4 separate regions of the Homo sapiens genome follow, and all the other regions are reported to be linked to region 1. Evidence: microRNA targets listed by miRTarBase, many of them from high-throughput screens and not tested one by one. Region 1 holds a microRNA gene; each other region holds the end of a gene's coding sequence.
Evidence for each region. The annotated mature microRNA hsa-miR-4679 reads UCUGUGAUAGAGAUUCUUUGCU and lies in region 1 at 3,001-3,022, shown strand. An mRNA with a match to its seed (bases 2 to 7 or 8) in the 3' UTR can be bound and repressed. Matches are read on the target gene's strand: a 7mer-m8 pairs with bases 2 to 8, a 7mer-A1 pairs with bases 2 to 7 and ends in A, and an 8mer does both.

Region 1 (7,816 bases):
GCCATTTTATATAACACAAAAACTAGTGGAACTCCTCTATGCTGCTAGGTTACCCCTGGATGGGCAGGGCTGGAGGGAGCCTGGGGGGGTTTCTGAGATCCTGTTGTTATCCTGATTTTTTATTTGGCTTCTGGTTATGTAAATGTGATTAGTTTGTGAAAATTTGTTGTGCTGAACACTTAGGATGTACATACTTTTCTGCAGGTATGTTGTACTTCAATAGAATGCTTTTAAAGTACATGTATGCAGTTTTCCCTGCAGAGGCTCAGTGAAGAGGGCAAACTGTCAGTCTCTCAAGACAGTGAGTGGTTTTGATCTTTCTCAGACAATGATCCTTGATTCCAGAGAAAAGCCTGGCCAGATCCCATAACTTTTAACCATAAAGAACCAGATAGACCAAAGTGAATGTTTAAAATATAGTTAACCTATTTTTCAGATTTCAAAAATGGTTGAGTGGAAAAAAAATCAATAGTATTTTCAACTAGAAAGACTGTCCCATATTGACCTTTATATTAATTTTCTGGATAGTTGAATTTGGAATTTCAAAGCTTGTAGGGGTTTCTTTGGGGAAAAATGTGAGTTTTCCAGTGATAGTGTTACTAACTATACAGCTTGGAAGTCTGCATCTATTTTGACAAAATAATTTGTGTTTAGTTTACTAATATTGTAATATATTCAATTCTTTTGGAGAAAGAAAACAGACATATTTGTGGATAATTTGCATTGCCTCTTCTCTTAAAGTTTTGCAAATAATACATGATCAATGTTCAAGATGCCATTTCTCTTAGGAATTCAAATTCAGCCATCATTAATAGAGAACTTCCTTTGCACAAAGCACCATTCTGGATATTTTATATTTTTCAATTTAATTTTTATTTCAATTGTGTGATGTGGATATTTAACACCATTATATAGATAAGGAAACTATAGCTATCGAGGTTGATTTATCCAGCTAGAATTCTGACTCTAAATCTAGGACTTTTAAAATATCGTGCTAGGTAAACTTCACAGACTGTCTTCTTCTAGAAAATGTCATTGCAGAGAAATCTAGGAGGCAGGGAGCCATATCCTGTTGTCACCAAGGCATCATCCTATGCTCATAAATCAGCAGATGTGAGGCCAGGAGAAGCAGGTATGGAGAAAGGAATACAGGCTCAGGAAGGTTACGGGCAGACAGGGAGAGCTTGCCAGGGAGAGTTTTCTAAGCATTTCCATTCTTTTCTACTTAGGATGAGGGCTAAGCAAACAAAATACAGTCCACAGTTTTTTTCTCTGAATCAAACATGAGTTTGACGACCTTATTATAGGGAAATTTACCAGCCCTTTTTCATCTGCACAAGATATTGGTAAGAAGAAACAAACCACAGAGCCCTTTTGTCCCATGATCTTGACCTTGGAATTGCTAAAGAATGTGCTCGTTTTTCTTTGTCAGTAGCTGTATTGGAACTGAAGAGTGAAGAAATTGAATTTTGTAAACAGAGTTTGGAAAAGACGCACTTTGGTTCCAGGAAAGAATTCACAGTGACTCCACTCAATAAGAGTTGAGTTGGCAGCTTCAACATCTTCTCTGGGAAGCCCCCGAGTAGCTTGGAGAATTGATGTTGCATAAAAGGATAATCATTGTCATTTAAAAGAATTAGTGTTTGGGTTCTTCGAGTGACATTGTGAGAAGAAAAATATTTATTAAAGATTGGCCTGTAGAAGGAAAAACTAGACCCCAGAGACAATAACAAGAGAAAAGAGTAGTGATCTCAACTCTCCTCCTATTAGGGAAGAAAAAGCACACACACACACACACAAAAGTAAAAAAAAAATGTTGGGGTGACTGACATTTTATTCTTTATGCCTTTCCCTTTAAAACAAAAATAGACTTGGAAGTGGAATAGTGAGACCACTTACATATGTACAAAATTTTACTCTTAAAACTCTCCTTGACCCTTAGAACCTTAGCCCTAATTGCTATTTTCACTTCTAAATATCATTCTGCATGCATTCATTTATTGAATTGTTTGTGCCTACTGAGTCTTTTTTTCCCTTTGGTTGAAAAAGTCAGCTTTCAGAGGCTTTTAATTTTCTTCCAGATTCCTTGAATGACCTCTAAGTTACTACCATAAAAGCCAATTGATGCACAAATATTTTTCCAGAGAGGGGTCATGGTTTTGAAATTTAAGCCTAGGGCTATCATTTGAGCAAAATCTTTTGTTATTTGTGAATTTGCTTTCATTTGGTTTTCCACTTGAAACTAATTAAATAATTTGAATTGAAACAAGTTGAGGTACATCTGGAAAGAGCAGCTGCCAAATAAATGCTTGTTGAGTTAATAAATAAATGAATGAATGGGCTAATCTACTTAAATCTGATTCTGTCTCTGAATCTGAGAAAAAAAAAGTGGTTGAAATGGACTCTTCCTTGATTGGTCCAAGACTTTTACAGGACACTGAAATCTCTAGTTATTTTCATCGTGAATAGTCCTCCGGAATTTCTTTAATGAAGAGATCTTGAATATACAGCTAACCCTTAGAAGAGGTTACAAACTAATTGTCTCTGAGCCAAATCCAGCTCCAAACATATTTTATTTGACATTCACAGTCTTTTAAATTGTTTGAATTTAAATTTACAAACCAGGAGATTTTACCTAAAAGCATAGGTTCTATCTCTTCTTGCACTAGGTCTGCACATCTCCACAATATCACACACGGAACAGAATAGCAGCTACTTGCTGTAGATAAGGCATAGGCTCTACAACTTACTACAGTCCACGTTTGCCCTAAAAGGGATTACTATTAATAGGTATTGGCACTGTTATTTTTCATATATATAGTAAGCACATATTTCTCTGTGTTACAAATTTAGACTGAGAGCTGTATAATTCTAGAAAAAAATGGAAAAAAATCATCTGTTTTTCTTTTAATAGAAAAGTTCATTTTATATAAAACTTAAACCTTTAAAAAAAAAGTCTGCCTGGCTTCTTTGGGCATCTGTGCTTATTACTATCTTTTTTCTGTGATAGAGATTCTTTGCTTTTTGTTTCTAACAAAGCAAAGAATCTCTATCACAGAAAAAAGACGGTAAAGCAAAAGTTTTTGTTTCTGCTTTTGTTTCTTTTATATAAGTCATAATGGAGAGAAAATCTATTTTTGTCTACAAATCTTTTTCAATGTTTTAATTTTTTCTCTCAAGGTTTATCTGAAAAGTGATTTCATCAACCCATGTTGGAAGCTTATCAGACACTGCTGGTATGGGGCAAAAACTGGGGAGATGAAACCATGAGTCGATTCAGACAAAAAGTCAGTCATGGACTGGGACCTGGTATCACACACTGGGGCTGAGCCAAGCTGGAGTCAGGCAGGAAGCCAAGGACTGGAGCACCAAAATCAGACAATTACCAAGAGGGGCCAAGTCAAGAACTTACTGGAAGAGCCAATTCAGAGATCAGGAAACTTGAAGAAGAAAATATGATTGGAACCTATATCCTGTCTAGGTCTCAAGACTTCAACACACATAGAAGCTTGAGGCCACACTGGGTTTTTGGCAACTAGGTTTATCTTAAACTTAAAAAAAGTTTTTAAATCATGTTCTAACTAATTTTTCCACCAGGTAACTTGATATAAACATACAAATGGTTTCTTTAGCAGCTTCTTTTAAAGTATATATTTTATTAAAGTATAACACACATTCAAGTGTTCAGCTTAGTGAAATTTTACAAGTGAACATACCAGATAATCAGCAAGTAAATCAATACATAAAACATTATCAGTACCTTTATGCCCTTACCAGGTACTACTCTTCCAAGGATAGCCACTATGCTCATATATAACACATAGATTACTTCTTTCCTGCTTTTTATTTATACTAGTGAAATAATACAGTTTATACCGGCTTCTTTTGTTCAACATTATATTTGTGAAAATTATATATGTTACATGTAGCATTGTTTTTCTGCTGTTGTATGAAAATTCCACAATTTAGGCATTCATTCTATTCTTGATGGACATTTGAGATAGTTTTGGTTTGGTGCTGGCACAAAAAATTCTGCCATGCACATTTTTTTACATGTTTTATTGTGACTATATGTATGCATTTCTTCTGGACATACGCTCGCAAAGGAAATTGCCAAGTCATAGAGAATGTTCATGGTCAGCTTTCCTAGATACAGTCAAATAGTATTCCAAAGTATTTATATCAACCCATACTCCCACCAAGAATTTAGGAGAGTTCTGGTTGATTCACAAAATCACCAACACTTGGGATTGCTTATTTATTTTAGCTATTCTTGTAATTGTGAAATTATATTGGTTTCAATCAGCATTTGAACTTTTTTCCTACGTTGGTTGGTCATTTGAATATCTTCTTTTGTAAAGTGTCTTTTCATTTCTTTTGCCTACTTTATCTATTATGTTATCTGATTTTTTTTCTATTCACTTTTGGGAGTTTTAAAATATATATTCTGTATATGAAATTTTTGGTGATATCTGTATTGCAATATCTTTGTTCATTCTGTGGCTTGTCTTATCACTGCCTTAAAAATATGATTTGATGGACTCTCATTCTTAATTACAGTAGCATCCAATGTATCTTTTTTTCTTTATGGTTAGTGCTTCTAGATTGCATCAAGGTCATAAAGACATTCTTACTAAGTTTTAACCTAGGAACTTCATTGCTTTACCTATCGTATTTCAGTCTACCATCTGTCCATCTGAAATTAATTTCTATTTCCAGTGAAAACAAAAATTAGGAATGAAACTTTATTTTGTTCAATATGTATATCCACTTGGCTCAACATCGTTTATTAAAATCATCCTTTCCGTGACCCCACTGCACTCCAACAATCAAGTGACCTTGAATATGTAGGTCTGTTTCTGGACCCTCTATCTGTTTCATTGGTCTGTGTGTCTATTCTTGCACAAGTACCACACTGAAACTGCTTAATTACAACATTTCTTAACATCTAGTAGTGTATAAGCTAGTAAGGTTTGTTTTTCCTCTGTAATATTGTCTTAGATTTTTGCATTTCTTAGATTTTGCATTTCTGATATAAATTATAGAGACATCTTGTTACTTTCTACATGTACACACTTACACACACATACACATACACACAAACTTGTTTGAAATTTGATTGAATTTTCATTAAATTTGTAGACATTTTTACCATGTCGAGTCTCTTTATTCATTAGCATGGCTTTAGTACTTATTTATTAGGCTTTCAGCTTTTTCTCAAACTTACTTATATTTCTCAACCCTACTTGTATTTCTCAAAAGAACACATTGATTCTTTTGTATCTCACAAGTGTGACTGGGTTTTTAGGCTCATGTGTGAGATGAGCTTCCCTCAAAAATTGTTGTGACTGTGGCATGTTACCTGTGTGATGTGAAAATAAAAAGGCCACACCATCTTCCCTAGGAAATTTAAAGGAACATCACTACTATTTTTAAGTTTTTCACTATTTTGTTAATATATCCTTTTTCTGATTGCATAAAGAATAATTATTTAAAGTATAAAACTTTAAACTACTAAAAAAGAAGAGAGGAAGTCAATAAAATTTCATTCGTGATCTCAACCATCTTGTATTAGTGTATTCTTGCATTGCTATGAAGAAATACCTGAGACTGGGTAATTTATAAGGAAACAGGTTTATTGGCTCACAGTTCTGCAGACTGTATAACAAGCGTGATGCTGGCATCAGCTTGGCTTCTAGGGAGGCCTTAGGAAACTTACAGTAATGGAGGAAGGCAAAGGGGAAGCAGGCCCTTCTTACACAGCCAGAGCAGGATCAAGAGAGAGGTGGGGAGGTGCTACAGACACACTTAACCAACCAGATTTCATGAGAACTCTCTCATGAGAACAGCACCAAGAGAGATGGTGCTAAACCATTGATGAGAAACTGCCCCCATGATCTAATCAATTCCCACCAGGCCCCACCTCCAATGTTGGGGATTACAATTTGACATGACATTTGGGCAGGGCCACAGATCCAAGCCATATCATATCTTTTATACTCATGGTGAATATTTTGGTGTAAATATCTTCCATATGTACCATTAAAAGGGTGTCATATTATATATATATATTCTTGTGTATCCTTCTTTGTCTCTTGATATTTCAGAAATATTTTCTCACTCAAAAATTATCATTTAAACATGACTTTTTAAATTACTAAATAATACTATGGGCATCAAATGTGTGGGTATCAAATAAACTATTTAATAAAGTACTTATTGGTAGTTTCAAATTTTATTTTCAGATAATTTTTTCTATTCCGAATAATGCTATAGCAAACATCCTTGTAAATAAATATTTGATTTTATGACTATTAGAACTTTTTAAAAATATTGAAATAGAGATGGATACACTTCTAAATGTTTAATTCTCATTGCAAAATTACTATGAAATGTTAACACCAATTGATATAAACCACAACATTGTAAGAAAGGGCCCATTTCTCTGGAACACCAAATGGTGTTGGCAATAAACTACATTTGGTAATTTTCCCCAGAAATATAAAATGCATTTTCCCAAATTTCCCCTGAAAACTTCAGTGCCACATAAGCTCTTTATGAGATATAGCTTCATGGTTAGTTTTCCTCTAGCGTTTTTCTCATATTACAGTCATATGATGGGATGAAGATTTTAGATATCTCAATCTCTATTTTTTTCTCTGCTTTCAACCTTCAGACCAAAGATGGCAAAACAGAAAAAATAAGATTGATAATGAATAAAAAGATGGATTGCAACCCATAATGGCTAGGGTTGGGAAAACAAGCAGATTTACTGTTGGTGGAAATGTACATTGGTATCAGTTTGAAAGGCAATTTGATTATGTCAGTATCTGTGAGCAGTTAAACACTTAAATGATACATATTCTTCACCAAGCAATTCCACTTTTGTAATTTTTTTCTGAAGGGAAAATTATAAAAGTGCACAAATACTCATAGAAATACTCAGTGCAGTATTGGTGAAATGAGGAGAAAAGAGAGAGAGAGAGAGAATGAAAGAAAAAAGAAAATGAACAACTATCATATAGAGAATGCCATGCCGTAGAACATCTATGGCACAGAATACTGTATTGATATGTAAAGAAAATGCTATATATATGAATGAATAGATAGTTAAGATATTCTGTAGTATAAAAAGGAAAATGAAGACCAATAGCTGTATCAATTAGGATTGATTCAAATCTAATACAGAAATCTACACATGCAGGTTTAATTTCTTTTTTCCATCATGATACTCATACACAATTATATTTTTATAATATCGTATAAAATATATTATATTTTTATAAAATATGGGAGGAGAGGGCTATTTGTGGACTGAAGGAGTCAACTAAGGACATCTCTTCCCAGGCCCCCTCATCCTCTCTTTTACATTTCAACTCAGAGGGATGCAAGGATCAATATCTCCGCATAGCTGTTACACAACTGTGGCCCTGCTATACATAATAAGACTTACTTTTCTTCTGTAACAAGGAATCAAAGGGCATAAACCCAGGGAGAACTTAGTGTAAAGCACCACAAATTTCATCAGGGACCCAGCTCCTTCCTATATTTCTTCTCTGTGATCCTTAACAGGAAGCTTTGGTCACAAGTTTCCATCTCTGGTCTTCCATTTTCCTTTCAGGTAGGAGTGAGAAGGAAAAATGAAGAAGCAGGGATGGCACCTACATTAGGAGAGCAAAACTTTTAGAAATCTTCAGCAGATTTCTGCTTCCATCTCATTAGCTAGAACTGTGGCACAAGATGATCCGTAGCTATAAGTAATGTTAGGAAAAGTAGTTTTTGAATTGGATACAAAGCTGCTTTGAACAAAATTGGA
Region 2 (7,816 bases), not on the chromosome of region 1:
GCGGCGTCGCAGCAGCTCCGGCCCCGAGCGCCCGCGCAGCCCCGGCCCGGGGGTCGCCGCCATTTCCGGCTCTGGAGTGCCGCCCCCGCCCCCCACCCGCGCCCGCCCGCCCGCCTGCCCGGGCCTGACGTGGGCCGATCCGCCCGCCCGACCCGCAGCGAGCTCACCTGCCCGTCCGCCCGCCCGCCCGCCCTCCCGCCGGCTCCGCGGCTCCGCTCCCCGATTCGCGGCGCTGCTGGGCAGCGGCCGACGCACTCCTCAGCCTGGAGACCCCGGGCGGCGGCGGCGGCGGCGGCAGAGGGCGCGGGTGCGGCACCGGCAGCGGCAGCGGCAGCGGCAGCGGAGACGAGCACGCTCACGCACGCACCCGCACCGGCGCGCGCGCTCCCGGAAGGACGTGGGCTCCGGCGTGTCGGAGCCGCGGGTGGGACCGGCTGCGCATGCGCTCAGAGAGCCGAGCGGAGGCTCCGTCCATGAAGGGGCGGAGTCCCGAGTGACAGCCCGGGGCCGAGGCGCCCTGTGGAGGCTCCGCCCATGAGTGGGCGGGGACGAAGCGCGGGGGCGGAGCCAGTCCTCCCAGTCTTCAGGTGGCCGCAGGTGGGTCCCGGGTGGACACGCCATGTGCTGCGGGGAACCGCGCAGAAAGAGAAGCGCAGGGCTTGCTGGTCTTGCAGGTGAGTTTACTCAGCGCTTTAAGTAAGACTGAGAAAACGTAATCGTTCTCATCAAAGAACTGAACAGGGAGCTGGTGGGAGACGGCTGCGGACCGTCGCCCCCGCCCCCACCCGGAGCCACCGTCCTGGGACTGACATTTGCTCAACCCTGGAGCGCCGAGATGGGACGTCCTTCCTTCCTTCCTGTCCAACCACTGAAATGCCGTCGCCAGCGCCCTCCCACCCTCCCGGAATCATCTCCAAACAGCAGCGTGGAGAGGCAGGACCACGAACGTCCACTCCACCTCCCTCTGCCCTTGCCCATCCCGTCGGCCACCCTTCCCTGTCCCTGTAACTGCAGGCGCTCCGCCACTCACTGACGGCCTGCCCCGCGTAGGCTGCCTGGGCCACTTCCCATCCTAGAAGCTCCCAGACCTCTGCGGCCGGTGCTCCTGCCTCCTCGCTTCCACCCTTGCCCGTTTACCTGAGTTCAGTGCGGTCATCTTTTTAAAACAAACCCAGTAGCATCCAAGGCTTCCCGTGACACACTGCGTGAAACCCAAATTCTCTCTCAACACGCTCTGGCCTCCTTCCTCTGCCCTCATAACTCACTGCCATAATGCCGGTCTTGAATTGCCAAGCTTGTTCCAGTCTCACAGCCTGGAAGTGTCAGAGCTTGGGAAGCCTCCTAGCAGTCATTAAGCTGCGCAACATCAAGCAGGCAGCAAGAAAAGGCCTATGGAACCCAAGAAGCAGAAAGGCCAGGTTCATATCTACAACTATAGATTCCAAGAGAATGAAATATTTCAGGCCAGAATTGGAGGGATGAGAGAATGAAATGGGCCTGGTACCGATCTCAGATTGAAGCTATATTCCACTTGTGCTGGGAGCTGCAAGAATGAATGAACCAGCCTTAAGTGAGTCCCTCTGAGACCTAGCAGTTCCACTTTAGGGACATTCTTCCAAAGAAAATATTCCTAAATACAGAAAAAGGTATATGCACTGAAATATTCATGAAGGCACTATTTTTAATAGCGAGAATGGAAACCTGCCCAACTGCACAAGTGAGCACTCAAATGGAATAATATAGTTACTGAAATGTATACAACGGGACCCATGGCTCACGCCTGGAATCTCAGCACTTTGGTAGACCAAGGCAGGAAGATCACTGGAGCCCAGGAGTTTGAGACCTGCCTGGACAACATAGTGAGACCACCATCTCTATAAAAAAAAATTTTTTTAATTGGCCCGGCCACAGTGGCATGCATGCCCCTGTAGTCCCAGCTACTCAGGAGGCTGGATCGGGTGGGAAGTCAAGGCTGTAGTGAGCCATGATTGTGCCACTGCATTCCTGCCTGGGTGACAGAGCAAGACCCCATCTCTTATTTAAAAAGAAGAAAAAAAGAAAGATAATGTGTAGAAAGGCTACACAGGAGCAAAGAACTCCTGAAACTAAAATGAGCACGATGCATGATATGTAAAAAGTATATTATCACACATATATCTATCCATGAACATTCCAGCCTGCTTGGAGAAAATAAGACAGGAAGGTACGCCCGGGCACAGTGGCTCACACCTGTAATCCCAGCACTTTGGGAGGCCGGGGTGGGCGGATCACCTGAGGTCAGGCGTTCAAGACCAGCCTGGCCAACATGGCAAAACCCTGTCTCTACTAAAAATACAAAAATTAGCTGGGCGTGGTGGCATGCCCCTGTAAATCCCATCTGCTCGCGAGGCTGAGGCAGGAGCATCGCTTGAGCCCAGGAGGTGGAGGTTGCAGTGAGCTGAGATTGCACCACTGCACTCCAGCCTGAGCGACAGAGTGAGACCCTGTCTCAAAAAAAAAAAAGAAGACAGGAAAGTTGACAGTGGCTACAGTTGGGAAGAGTCTGATGTTTACCTCTGATACATCAGGCCCTGTGCTAAGTGCTTTATAAGGTTAAGCCTTTCAATATGATGAGGCAGATACCATTACCCTCACTCTGAGAAGAGGGGACTGAGCCTTCAGGCATTGCTGCCCGCTCCTCAGGTCCACTTACTCCACTTGCTCCATCCTCGAAGCTCTCCAAGCGCTTCACCTCGTCAAACACAAGCCAGTGACTTAGGGGAATCTGTCTTCCCCAACAAACGGGTTGCAAAGTCCTTGAGCACTGGGTCCACATCAGATTCACCCTTGTACCCCACAAAACCTAGCAGACTCTTACCCGCAGGGCAGTTACAGTATCTGTTCAATAAATGAAGAACACATGAACTCATTCCAAAATAAATTAGTGTAAATCTTGACTGCAGGCGGCAATAGTGCATTTCACCCTTTATTGGTACCAGCTCCCTGCTGTATTGGGGCTTATGTACCATACAATTCGAGGTCACCTAACTTTCCCTGCTCTTACATCTGGGGTGAGCCCAGCTACCTCTGACCTCCAAAGGAAGACTGGTGCTCCCACTAGTTTTCCAGTGGGAACTCCAAAGACTAGGAATGGATACATGCAAAGCGCCAGACCAGGGGCAGAGTGGAGGTTCCCCCTCAAGGGTCTTTTCCTTTTTCTTTTTCTTTTTTTTTTTTTTTTTTGAGACAGAGTCTCGCTTTATCGCCCAGGCCGGAGTGCAATGGCGTGATCTCGGCTAACTGCAACCTCCACCTCCCGGGTTCAAATGATTCTCCTACCTCAGCCTCCTGAGCAGCTGGGATTACAGGTGTGAACCACCACACTCGGCTAATTATTTCACTTTTTTGTAGAGTCAGGGCCTGGCTACGATGCTCAAGCTGGTGTCAAACTCCCAGGCTCAAGTGATCCTCCCATCTTGGCCTTCCAAAGTCCTGAGCTTACAGACATGAGCCACCACACCCAGCCTACTGTTTTTAGTTGAGATGGAATCCCGGTATGCTGCCCAGGCTGGTCCTGAACTCCTGGGCTCAGGTGATCTGCCTCACCCTCCAGAATGGCGGGGACTACAGGTGTGCTCAGCAGCAGCTCAGTGCTTGCAGGGGCAGCTGGCGAAGCCTCTGGAGCTCCCGGCCCAACCTGGAGCCTGGTGAGCTCCTCCTCCGCCTCCTGGGGCTCAGTTTCAACTCCTCTTCCCAAGACGCTGGGTCTGACCTCACAGGTTGGCCATATACCATTCTCCCCTCACAGCTGGCTCCCCTTGTCCCAGCATTGAGGACCTGCCCTTTGTCTTTAGCACTGTCCCCTGCCTGCCTCTCCCAAGGGTGCGGACTCATTAGGGCAGGTACCGTGTGCCAGTTCATTTACCACTCTTATCATGGTCCCGAACGATACATCACACAAGCCGAGGCGGACTTTCCCCCAAAGGAATGCTTTATTGACAAATTACCCATTATTATAATAACTTTAAGGAAAAGATACATCGGTCAACACCCGCACAACCTGCCTTCTCACCACACCCCACAGGCCGATTTTAACCCTGGACGAAGGGCACCGAGCGCTGGGCTTCCCTGGCCCCTGCATCTCTGTCGTGTGTGGAGTGCCATCCCCAAGGGTGTCTGAACTGTCCGGGGACACGGCTGTCAGAGGACACTTGCTCTACCGAACAGGACACCTTGAGCTGAGCAGCCCTTCCCCTCCCGGGAGTGGCAGAGCCGGGCACACCACAGGCAGGCCCTCAGTGTCCTGCCAAGAGCCACTAAGGCACAGAGCTCCCCCTGCAGACCACGCCATCTGACATGCAGGGCCCCGGTGTGCGAGAGAGGCTGCTGGGGTGCGACTATTTAGTAACAGGAAGAGATCTTTGTAGCTCCTGAGAAAAAGACTGTAACGGCAATCCTGGCTGATGCCCACGCCCCACCCTCCACCTGACCTGTGGGGTCGTTTCATCCCAAGTACAGCAAGCAGGAGGGTTGGAGTCACTGACGAATGTGAGCCGGGCCAGGCCCATGCAAAGGCAGCACTGAGAAGGGGGGCACAGTTCTTTTAAAGGGTGCTAAAGACAGGGTTTTCCTTCTCTTGGCCCCTCCCATTCCCAGAGGCTCAAGAGCCCTTTAGGGCAGGGCATAGGAGCCAGCGGGAGCTGCCACGGTTGAGAAGAGAAGCAGGTTTTGTACACTGGGATGGAGTGTGCGTGACATAAAACACCTCAACTGGAAGAGGCTGCCACGCAGGCCAGGTGTAAAATTCCACACAATGCTCACAACCATTAAGGAACCCTCATCTATATACATATAAAAATTAGAAAGAAATAAAGCATAAGGCAATGTAAGGCTTGTATTTCAGCTTGAGTCCAAAGAAATAATATTCTATGAGGCTAAAGCTGCTTTGCCTAATTTAAACTTTTTGAAAAGTCCACTGCATTTAAAAAATAATGAATTTGCTTCCGTTAAAGCTAGATTCGCGTAACAATCAGGCAGCTGCTGAGGGTCAGTTTCCTTTCTGGGGGTCTCAGAAAATGGACAGTTTTCTCGTTCGGCATTTTGAGATAAAAAATTGCGTAACAGGTAGGACTTGCTGGGTGATTGCATTCCTTCTGTGAGTCAGGGAAGGAGGAGGAGGAAGAAGTCAGAAAATGCCACTTATTTTATGCTTAGAACTCTTCAATCCTTCAACATTCTGATGGGCTAACATGATTCCCAAAGGGAGCCTGGGCTTTGGCTCAATATTCTTTCAAACCCTCCGCCCTGTCCACTTCCTGCACCCCTAGGAAGGACAGCACAGTGATCTGTTTCATCTACAAACGTGAGTGTAAAACATCTGTGTACAAGCCTGTGTTCTTCAAATTCATGCAAACGCGGCAGCCACATCTCCGCGTGGATGGGCAGGACTGTCCTCAGGGCCGGCTCTGCTCATCCGCCCTGGCTGGCTGCTCCGCTGAACAGAGCTGCGGCTGTGATGCTGAGGCTGGGTTGCGTGTGCTCTGCAGCGGGTGAAGCAACCACAGGCTTAGAAAGGTGCGGGATCCGACAGGGGCTTGTCACCACTCCCCGCTGAGGAAGGGAGGTTGTCACTGCCGTTCTCTCTGTCACCCACAACCTTAGACTACAGGAGAGAAAAGATGAAGACAGAAAAACCTGAGACAGAGCACACAACACAAGGCAGATCCCAGGCCCATGCTCAATGCTCTACAAAAGCTTATGTAACACGAACACTGCTCAGCAGGGACAGGGAGCAAATCACGGACGGGCACCAGCCCCAACAGGTCTCCAGAGAACGATGCCAAATGAAGACAGTGAATGCCAAAAAGCTGCACACTGTATCGTTCCATTTACGTGACATTCTTGAAATGACACAATTATACAAAGGGAGAGTGGACTAGGGGTTGCCGGGGGTAGGGCGGGAGGAAGGTCAGCATGGCCAAGAAGGTACCAGGAAGGGCAGTGGGGACCAGGAAGGGCAGTGGGGACCAGGAAGGGCAGTGTGGAGGCGTTCTGTGTCCTGAGTCAGTGCCAATGTCCTGGTGGGGAGGCTGCACTACAGGATTTTCCAAGATGTCGTCACAGGAGAGAACTGTGTAAAAGGCACAAGGAACCTCTCTGCATTACTTCCCACAACTGTATGTGAGTCTACCATAACTAAATGACTAATAATAAACAAGTTGCTGTAACAGGTCACACCTTGCCAAGACCATCAAACAGTCCAGGTACAATTACCTTTATGGTCCCAACTCGGTCCTCAAACGACTTGAAGGTCGCAGAGTTCCTTTAAAGAGAGAGGGAAGAGTGTCGGTGTCAAGAGGAGAGGGTTGTGCTGCTCTCCTAACTCGGAAGGGCCTCAGGGTTAGGGCCAGCCTCCAAAGGGTCCCTAACAACATCCCAAGATCTCATGGCAAAACTGTGAGACAGCCAGGTCATTCCGGAGACTCCCCAGGTCAAAAGTGAGGTCGGCCATGCCCAACAACCACAGGGACAGGTCCAGACGTCACACAAGGCAACTGGAAACCCCTTGACTGTGCAGCTGGGGAGATGTCGGCCCCTCTCTGTCATACCCTACAGGGACATCCCGGGCTCTCGTACTGAGGTTATGAAAAGTCTGTGCAGTTGGGGGGCTGTCGGCCCCTCTCTGCTGTCCCCTACAGGGACACCCCGGGCTCTCGTACTGAGGTTATGAAAAGTCTGCGCAGTTGGGGGGCTGTCGGCCCCTCTCTGCTGTCCCCTACAGGGATACCCCGGGCTCTCGTACTGAGGTTATGAAAAGTCTGTGCAGTTGGGGGGCTGTCGGCCCCTCTCTGCTATCCCCTACAGGGACACCCTGGGCTCTCGTACTGAGGTTATGAAAAGTCTGCGCAGTTGGGGGGCTGTCGGCCCCTCTCTGCTGTCCCCTACAGGGATACCCCGGGCTCTCGTATTGAGGTTATGAAAAGTCTGTGCAGTTGGGGGGCTGTCGGCCCCTCTCTGCTATCCCCTACAGGGACACCCTGGGCTCTCGTACTGAGGTTATGAAAAGTCTGCGCAGTTGGGGGGCTGTCGGCCCCTCTCTGCTGTCCCCTACAGGGACACCCTGGGCTCTCGTACTGAAGTTATGAAAAGTCTGTGCAGTTCTTCATGCACATCTCTCAGAGAAGCAAACGGAAGACCAAGGACACTTCTGGGACAGCAGAGTGATAAGGAGACAAGAGGAGAAAGCAGGCCAGCTCCATCCCACTCAGTCCCTCCCACACAAACAGATACCCCTCCCAGGCCCGGGGACTCTAGAGGCCAGCACGTCTGCGACACCCAGCCAGAGTCCCCACAAGGAGAACAGGGCTCTCCTGAGAATCAGGGCGGTGCCTGACGGCGCAGGCACAGAATAGGGACCACAGTTCTGGGCTCTCCTGAGAATCAGGGCAGTGCCTCACGGCACAGGCACAGAATCCTGAGAATCAGGGTGGTGCCTGACAGGCACAGAATAAGGACCACAGCTCTGGGTGTTTCCGTGAAGGCTGAGACCGTGAAGTGTCCTGAGTGACAGCCCACCAGGGCAAGTGCCAGGATCTGTGTGCGAGCCCCTCGAACCCCACCCCACCCACTGCAGGCAGCCAGGGTCAGGACTTGGAAAGGACACGGCCCAGTTTGACACAAGGATCTCCTCTGGAGGCTGCAGGTGAAGAGCCTGACCCCCTACCAGCTCTTCCTCGTCAGCCTAGAGGGGGTTTTTACCGGCCCTTAGTCATCAGAGGTTGCCAAGGGAATGGAGTCCTCAATTAATCCAGGAATATGGGAAGGGCAAGGTGTAACC
Region 3 (4,215 bases), not on the chromosome of region 1:
AGCTAATGTTCTGATCATTGCAGCCTCCAGCTCATCTGTTCATCCATCACCAGCCCTTGCCCACCCTGGCCCCTGTGCTGCCTCTGGTCACACACTTCGCAGACATCAACACTTTCATGGTACTGCAAGTCATCAAGTTTACTAAGGACCTGCCCGTCTTCCGGTGAGTGACCTCCCCTCATCTTTCAGGAGGCAAACACTTCAGTAAATTGTATATCCACCCCGAAAAGTCACTGACTACAAATTATCACATGCGTCAGCCTTTCCAAGCATTAGGTCTTGAATTCCCAGCTTTGGTTTTAAATGTGCCAATCAGAACTGGGAGTTCTTCTCCATCTCTGAAGTACAGGCTTGCATCTAAAGTGCCCTTGAGGTGCCGCGCAGTGGCTCACACTAGTAATCCCAGCACTTTGGGAGGCGGAGGCTGGCAGATCGCTTGAGTCCAGAAGTTTGAGACCAGCCTCAGCAACATGACAAAACCCCAACTCTACAAAAAATACAAAAATTAGCTGGGCATGATGGTGGGTGCCTGTAGTCCCAGGTACTCAGGAAGCTGAAGTGGGAGGATCACTTGAGCCCAGGAGGTTGAGGCTGCAGTGAGCTCAGATAGCACCGCTGCATTCCAGCCTGGGTGACAGAGTGAGACTCTGTCTCAAAAAATGAAAGCTAAAAATAATAATAATAGGCCAGGCACGGTGGCTCATGCCTGTAATCCCAGCACTTTGAGAGGCCAAGGTGGGTGGATCACTTGAGCTCAGGAATTTGAGACCAGCCTGGCCAACATGGTGAAATCCGTCTCTACTAAAAATACAAAACTTAGCTGGGTGTGGTGGTGGGCGCCTATAATCCCAGCTTCTCAGGAGGCTGAGGCAGAAGAATCACTTGAACCCAGGAGGCGGAGGTTTGCTGTAGCCGAGATCAGGCCACTACATCCAGCCTGGGTGACAGAGCAACACTCTGTCTCAAAAATAAATTAATTAATAAGAATAATAATAAGGTGCCCTTGTCGGCTGGGCACAGTGGCTCACACCTATAATCCCAGCACTTTGGAAGGCCAAGGCAGGAGGACTGCTTGAGCCTAGGAGTTCGAGACCACCCTGGGCAACATAGTAAGACTCCATCTTTACAAAAAATAAAAACATATAAACAAACAAAAAATTAAAAAGTGGGCCGGGTGCAGTGGCTCATGCCTGTAATCCCAGCACTTTGAGAGGTCAAGGCAGGTGGATCACCTGAGGTCAGTAGTTGGAGACCAGCCTGGCCAACATGGTGAAAACCCGTCTCTACTAAAAATACAAAAAATCAGCCAGGCATGGTGGCACACGCCTGTAATCCAAGCTACTTGGGAGGCTGAGGCAGGAGAATTGCTTGAACCCAGGAGGCAGAGGTTACAGTGAGCAGAGATCACGCCACTGCACTCCAGCCAGGGTGACAGTGAGACTCTGTCTCAGAAAAAAAAAAATTGAAAAGTGTCCTTGTTTCCTGCTTTCCACAGTTCCCTGCCCATTGAAGACCAGATCTCCCTTCTCAAGGGAGCAGCTGTGGAAATCTGTCACATCGTACTCAATACCACTTTCTGTCTCCAAACACAAAACTTCCTCTGCGGGCCTCTTCGCTACACAATTGAAGATGGAGCCCGTGGTGAGATGGTGCTAGAGCAATAGGGGGCATGTGTCCTCATGGTACAGGATGTGGTCAGGTGACCTAGAGGCTCCTAATCCTAGTATCTCCCACAGTGGGGTTCCAGGTAGAGTTTTTGGAGTTGCTCTTTCACTTCCATGGAACACTACGAAAACTGCAGCTCCAAGAGCCTGAGTATGTGCTCTTGGCTGCCATGGCCCTCTTCTCTCCTGGTGAGCACCTCCCAAAGCCCAGAGCCTTTTGCTGCACCACCTCTGCCCAAATACTCAGCTCCTTGAGTCCATCCACCCAGGCCTTCTAGCCTAGCTATCAAACCTGCAGACTAGGTCTATCCCAGCCTCAGTCCCCGGGGCACCACGCAGGCCCACCCCTGCCACCCAACTTGTCCTTCCCAGCTCCCTATCTTACAGACCGACCTGGAGTTACCCAGAGAGATGAGATTGATCAGCTGCAAGAGGAGATGGCACTGACTCTGCAAAGCTACATCAAGGGCCAGCAGCGAAGGCCCCGGGATCGGTACGGTGGGACACTGAGGGCTTGGAGGCCACACCAGGGCAGGAAGGGGTTGGTGAAACATTGAGCTTGGGAGGAATGTTTTTTTACTGTCCTTTCCTTAGGGAATTCAGGTATCGTGGGGTCTAGTCCTTCCCCCTGGCCATCCCTGTCTCACATCGTTTCAGCATCCAAATTGCTGTATTTGGATACTGCTGTTTCATCTCACTTTTTCCAGATTTTTTTTTTATTCAGTACAGATGCAAAGTAGTAGCTCAGAGGCTCTGGGTAATAGCATTCCTGAGATTGATGACATCCATTACCTCACTAGTCCAACTTCTCCAGACTAACGCAGACTTTTCTCTTCCCTTGGCCTTTCCTCTCCTCGCCATTGGGCCAATTCCTTCGATTTCTCATTTCCCTTGAAGTTAGGGCCATTCACAGTTTCATGGTCAAAGCCAGTTCCAGGTTCAATAGTCTGTGATTTATCCAGGCTCTGAGGTATGCACCGCTTCTGTTTTGCTCGTTCCTCCAAGAGCTAGTTTGGCCAGAAAGGGGATGCTTTATACCATAGAACACATCCACCTTCTAGAACCTGCTCTAGAAGGCCAGGCCCTCAGATTCCACATGGTTGGAGTTCTGGCCAAGTCTGGAGCTTTCTTCACACTCGGCTCTCAGAGCTCTGGGTTCAGAAAAAACTGAGCATGGTGAGAGAAGACAGTGTCAGACCGAGGCCCCCTGGAGGACCTTTGGAACCTCTGATAGTCTGTCATACCAGAGCATGATTTTCTCTAATGTTCAGACCTGGCTTCACTGAGGAATAGTTCAGGGGATCAGGGCCTAGAGACAAGACTCCCAACTGCCTTATTTCCCTCCTGTTTTCCTGGCAACCCCACTACTTCCTCCAAAGGTTTCTGTATGCGAAGTTGCTAGGCCTGCTGGCTGAGCTCCGGAGCATTAATGAGGCCTACGGGTACCAAATCCAGCACATCCAGGGCCTGTCTGCCATGATGCCGCTGCTCCAGGAGATCTGCAGCTGAGGCCATGCTCACTTCCTTCCCCAGCTCACCTGGAACACCCTGGATACACTGGAGTGGGAAAATGCTGGGACCAAAGATTGGGCCGGGTTCAAAGGGAGCCCAGTGGTTGCAATGAAAGACTAAAGCAATAACTGCCTCTTCATGCGGTCATGGGGATAGTGGGGGTGACCATAGGAACAAAGTTGTTCTCTGGAAGCACAGAAGATGGGAAGGAGGAAACCTCAGGGCTAAGAGGTAAAGAAGCTCCTTCTGGGAATGGGTGGGCCCCACTTCCTGAGACCAAACATCTAGCCCTTCAGCCCTACTTTCCCAGCCTTGGGAGGCTCTGGGATGGAAAACAGGATGGTCAGCTAATCCCATGCAGGATTAACCAAAGGGAAAGGAAGAAGGAAGCCTGAGGGCAAGGGGTGCCGGGGGAATTCAGCCATACCCCTTAATCCTTCTCCCTTAGTCCACAGCCACAAGAGCATGGGGAAGGTGATACTGGGGCTGGTAGCAGAGGGGGGATCCTCAAACCTCTGCCTCATCAACTGCCCCTGTGGCAGCTCCAGTTCTGAGGAGGGCATGGTCCTGTCCACCACTCTGCTCCTGGGTCCTAGAGATCACCCAGCAAGGTGGGCTCTGAAGAGGGGCCTAGTCTTTGGCCCTAGGGCACCTGACTCAGAGGTTCCAGCTGCTGTGGGGGCTGGCTCTGGACAACCTCAGCCCACAGTGATGCTGAAGCCACAATGGAATCTGTTGCGCCAGTGATTGAGGAAGGCTCCAAGGGCTAGGGTGACAGGCAGAGGGGGCATCTTCTTCTCCAGCACAGCACCTACACACCAGTTACTATCCACCAAGCCTGTTGGGGGAGAGAATACCCACTAGATTATTTAACAGGGATTGGAGGAAATAGTCACCAGAAGTAAGGTCGAGCTTCCCTCCCTCCTCTGCATCCCCCATTCCTCAGGATAGCCAAATGTCTCCCAATAACCCTCACCTCTAAATACCATGTTGGCCTGGGGCAGAGTCAGGTGGTAACCAAAGGAGAATGTTGTGTCTT
Region 4 (4,000 bases), not on the chromosome of region 1:
GAGTTCAAGACCAGCCTGGCCAACATGGTGAAACCCCATCTCTACTAAAAATATCAAAAAAAAAAAAAAAAAAAAAGCTGGAAATGGTGGTGTGCCTGTAATCCCAGCTACTTGGGAGGCTGAGGCAAGAGAATTGCTTGAACCTGGGAGGCGGAGGTTGCAGTAAGCCAAGATCATGCCACTGCGCTCCAGCCTGGGTGACCGAGAGGGACTCCATCTCAAATAATAATAAAGAAAAAAGAATGTTTGCATGTTCTTCTACTCCCAAGAGCACTCTTCCCTTCTTAAGATATACTGCACATTGGTAAAAGATTAAAAACAAAACAAACTTGGAAAAGAAGCAATCTTTGGTTTCCTGGTCAATGAAGAACTTTGCTGAAAGAAGATATTCCCATTCAGAGAAAGCACAAAGTGAACACAACTAGAAACAACTGAAACTCAGTCTGGTATTTCAATACTGTGTCATAACAGCCAGACAACTTTCCAGCTGTTCTTCAAGACAGAAAACTCAGATTCTGACAATGAAGAAGATGGATGTGGCCCAGTGCAGAAGTCGGATGGACAAATGGTTCCAGAAGCTTTCTACTTGCAAATAACCTGAGTGATGAAGATTACAGGCTTATGAGTGATAACAATTTGCTAGGCACTATAGGTGAAGTACAGAAGAGTTGCTGAGAAGGTTACAACAAATTAAAGAGGATTCCCCACAAGAATCAGGTGAAAACAGAGGTGGATGACGTCTAGCACTAGTAATGGGTCTGTAATAAAGTGGCTTACCTCTTTTGGGCAAACTGAAAATATGACAGGAAGTAAGCAAAGAGAAAACCAAGCTTGGACAGCAGTGAGCCAGAGTAATCCATATAGTGGTAATTTCAGATTCAATGTAGGGATCAATTTTATCCTTAATAATGGAAGGCTGAATACAGAAAATGAATATGCATCATCTGCAAGATTTCCCAGGGGAGAAAATAGGGAAAACAGAGGAAAGTGGAAAATCCACAATCTGAGTCAACATTTGCAAGGCCACCTAGGTCAGGTACAAAGTGCGACAGAAGTATTAATGAAAGTTCCACTTACCAGAGGTCAGAGAAGACTGAGAAGCAGGAGCCCAGACCAATGGAGAACCAGAGCGAGAAATAAAAGTAGGTTCCCTCCAAATTCATGGTGAGAAATTTCACAAATATTTCATGATAATATACATCTCAGACTTTTGAATGACCCCTGGTAAATGAGACAGAGATTTTCTAGAACTCAGCAACATGAGACATTGAGAGAGCAAATAACTGACCCATAGTTGCAAAGTGGCATGTTTTTGTAGCTTTTGGAACATGGAATGCCTTTCCAGGAAAACGTTCTCCAGACACAATCAGAAATGGTGAATCTGGGGCACTGAGACTGAGAAATCCAGTCATAGTCCTGATTGTGATAGTAGGAAGAGTTCATCATGGGGAATATTTGCCAAGATATAGCACACCTAATAGAACCCAGTTAACATCTCCAACACCAAACAACAGTCACTTTAGAAAGTGAACAAAGAGAACTCAGAAATAATATTTTCACATTCTGAGCAAGCAGGTGTGAGCACCTATTTCACTACCAAAAGAATTCCTGTTCACAGAATTTCAAATACTCATTTAAATAATACACCTGTTGCAACTCAAAGAGCATTAAAGCAGACAATGACAAGATTTGCAGACTCAAATATGGACAGTGATAGTGATTTGTATCCTAGCGGCTCACCCCAGTCAGAACATGGCAAGAGCAAAGTCACAGAATGAAAGAGATGGTTCTGATATCAGCAACTGTTCTGGCTCCAATTCATGTCACAGTACTGCTTATGAGTCTGACTCAAGTTCTGCAATCTTTAAATCAGCCTCCAGTTTTTGAAGCGTTCATTATACATAAAGTAACAACCCGATCTAACTCATTGGTTCCTGAAGGAATGACTGAACCTTCCTCAATCAATTTCTGTTTCAGTAAAAAAAAAGAGGGAAGGAGGGAGAGGGGGAGGAAATGAAAGGAATTTCCAAACAAGTTTTCCTCTAGGTGCATACAGCTGTGACAGGACTGCCAGGCTCTGAAAGAACAAGCTTTTTATGTTAGAAAGGGAGTATCACCTAGCACTTTTAAACAGATGGCAAATGACCAGAAGTATGAACCTCTAGGCATGAAGAAGGCGGTTAATTACACCAAGACTGTGTTTATGTGTATACAATCACTAAGTAGCTGCCTCTATAGATACACTTCTTAACAAGTAAGTTTTTAAAACTTTTTATTTATTTATTTTACTTTTGAGCCAGGGCCTCACTCTGTCACCCAGGCTGGGATGCAGTGGCTTCACACAGCTCACTGCAGCCTTGATTTCCCGGGCTCAAGTGACCCTCCCACCTCAGCCTCCCAAGTAGCTAGGACTACAGCAGCATGCCACAATGTCCACCTATTTTTTTAATTTATTTTTTTGCAGACACAGGGTCTCACCATGTTGCCCAGCCTGGTCTCAAATTCCTGGCCTCAAGCAATCCTCCCACCTTAGCCTCTCAAAATGCTGGGATTACAGGTGTGAGCCACAGTTTTTATACTTTAAATAAAATTTTTAGATCTCACTAAATTGAGTTATTTAAAATCTGTGATCTGAGAAGCTACTTGTCAATATTATAACTGGATATTACATATAATTTTGGCATATCAAAAATATTTACATTGCAGCCAACACATATGGTCAATGAATACAAAAATTATTTATAAATGCACATATATTTACAATGACATCCCTGGGCAATAGGGACAAAAAAAAAAATTCACAAGAATACAAAAATCTTTGACCTGGTACCAGTTGGTCAAGCCTGGGATTCTTGCCAAAGACCTTGAATATCAAAGCCCCAGTCTCAACTATCTGCCTGAAACCACTGAAGAATCCCAGGCACACTTCCCAGAAGGCTCCAAAGTTATTTTTGCTCCTTGGAAAGCAAAGTAGAACATCGAAGTAGTGATGTTTTCTCAGGACCATTCTGAAGACTAGGGCAATCCAGCATGTTAAGCAGCAATGTGACTCTTCCTGACAAGCAGATGCACACCAGGGCACATCCCCATGGAAGCATCAGGAAGCACATTTGCCCCGTATCTTCCCTCTGCCGGTGCTGCACATTTTTGATGAGCTGTACCCATTTCTGTCAGCTGTTGCCATTTCTTCATCAGGTATAAGACCAAACAACGCATGGCCCACCTTGGTGCGGTCAGATGCAATCATAAAGAAAGAGTAAAGCAAATGCTGACTTCGGAGTTTCTTCTGAGCTCTGAGGTAGTAAATGCAAAATTAATTAATAAGTCTCTGCCCAGATTTCATCCTGAAGTGAGTTTCATGTGCCCTCACTACCATCTTGAATGTTCCGAGTCCTACTAAAATCAAAAGCATGATCCTGTAACCTGTGGCAGGACATGGAAGAAGCAGAACAGTCTGGCTCTCTCCCTGCCAGGCCCTCATTTTGATGAAGTTGTGGTGACTCATGGACTGGCTGCTGGGAAAAAGGAGGATGAGGCAGGCCTAGTTCTCTGTTTATGTTCCACACGGGCCGCTGCAATGTTTCTGAGAATGAAAGACAAGAATTATCAGTAGTGACTGGTAAAACTTAATATCCTTTTAGCCAAATCCTCAAAGAAATAAAGATGTTCAATATTCCTGAATAGGGACACTGAAATCACACACACACACACACACACACACACACACACAAAAACCACCACCAGAACATGGTCTTTCAAATCCCTCTACTTCACAAACCTAACCAATTATTTACTGAGATCATACTATATATCGTCTACTGTCACCTGTTATTTTAGCGATTCTGTTGCTACAAAATTTTTTATTTTATTTATTTATTTTTTTGAGATGGAGTTTCGCTCTTGTTGCCCGGGCTGGAGTGCAATGGCGTCATCTCGGCTCACCGCAACCTCCGCCTCCCGGGTTCACACAATTCTACTGCGTCAGCCTCCCAAGTAGCTG

Region 2: the mRNA of TPD52L2 is a reported target of hsa-miR-4679. Seed matches in the 3' UTR shown: 7mer-m8 at 5,490-5,496 and 7mer-A1 at 5,132-5,138.
Region 3: the mRNA of TOMM40L is a reported target of hsa-miR-4679. Seed matches in the 3' UTR shown: 8mer at 2,611-2,618.
Region 4: the mRNA of LRIG2 is a reported target of hsa-miR-4679. Seed matches in the 3' UTR shown: 8mer at 2,624-2,631.

The regions. Positions count from the first base shown.
Region 1 is chr10:89,058,587-89,066,402 of GRCh38, reverse strand. It overlaps MIR4679-2 (microRNA 4679-2), which reads left to right and starts at 2,992; the gene lies at 2,992-3,068. MIR4679-1 (microRNA 4679-1) reads right to left here and starts at 3,067; the gene lies at 2,993-3,067. LOC124902587 (small nucleolar RNA U13) reads left to right here and starts at 5,272; the gene lies at 5,272-5,372.
Region 2 is chr20:63,887,675-63,895,490 of GRCh38, reverse strand. TPD52L2 (TPD52 like 2) reads right to left here. Exons shown (of 7, transcript NM_003288.4): 6 at 6,253-6,301; 7 at 3,953-5,641. The coding sequence ends at 5,546. DNAJC5 (DnaJ heat shock protein family (Hsp40) member C5) reads right to left here and starts at 365. Exons shown (of 5, transcript NM_025219.3): 1 at 168-365. RefSeq lists a silencer at 284-523, enhancers at 523-1,050, 983-1,152 and a cis regulatory region at 1,067.
Region 3 is chr1:161,228,755-161,232,969 of GRCh38, reverse strand. TOMM40L (translocase of outer mitochondrial membrane 40 like) reads right to left here. Exons shown (of 10, transcript NM_032174.6): 9 at 4,153-4,215; 10 at 2,224-4,014. The coding sequence ends at 3,875. It overlaps NR1I3 (nuclear receptor subfamily 1 group I member 3), which reads left to right. Exons shown (of 9, transcript NM_005122.5): 5 at 24-163; 6 at 1,496-1,641; 7 at 1,737-1,853; 8 at 2,052-2,157; 9 at 3,044-3,301. The coding sequence ends at 3,173. Among named protein-coding and RNA genes, the nearest start is that of MIR5187, 3.7 kb to the right of the region's middle.
Region 4 is chr1:113,123,458-113,127,457 of GRCh38, reverse strand. LRIG2 (leucine rich repeats and immunoglobulin like domains 2) reads right to left here. Exons shown (of 18, transcript NM_014813.3): 18 at 1-3,583. The coding sequence ends at 3,357. It also overlaps the pseudogene RLIMP2. Among named protein-coding and RNA genes, the nearest start is that of LRIG2, 52 kb to the right of the region's middle.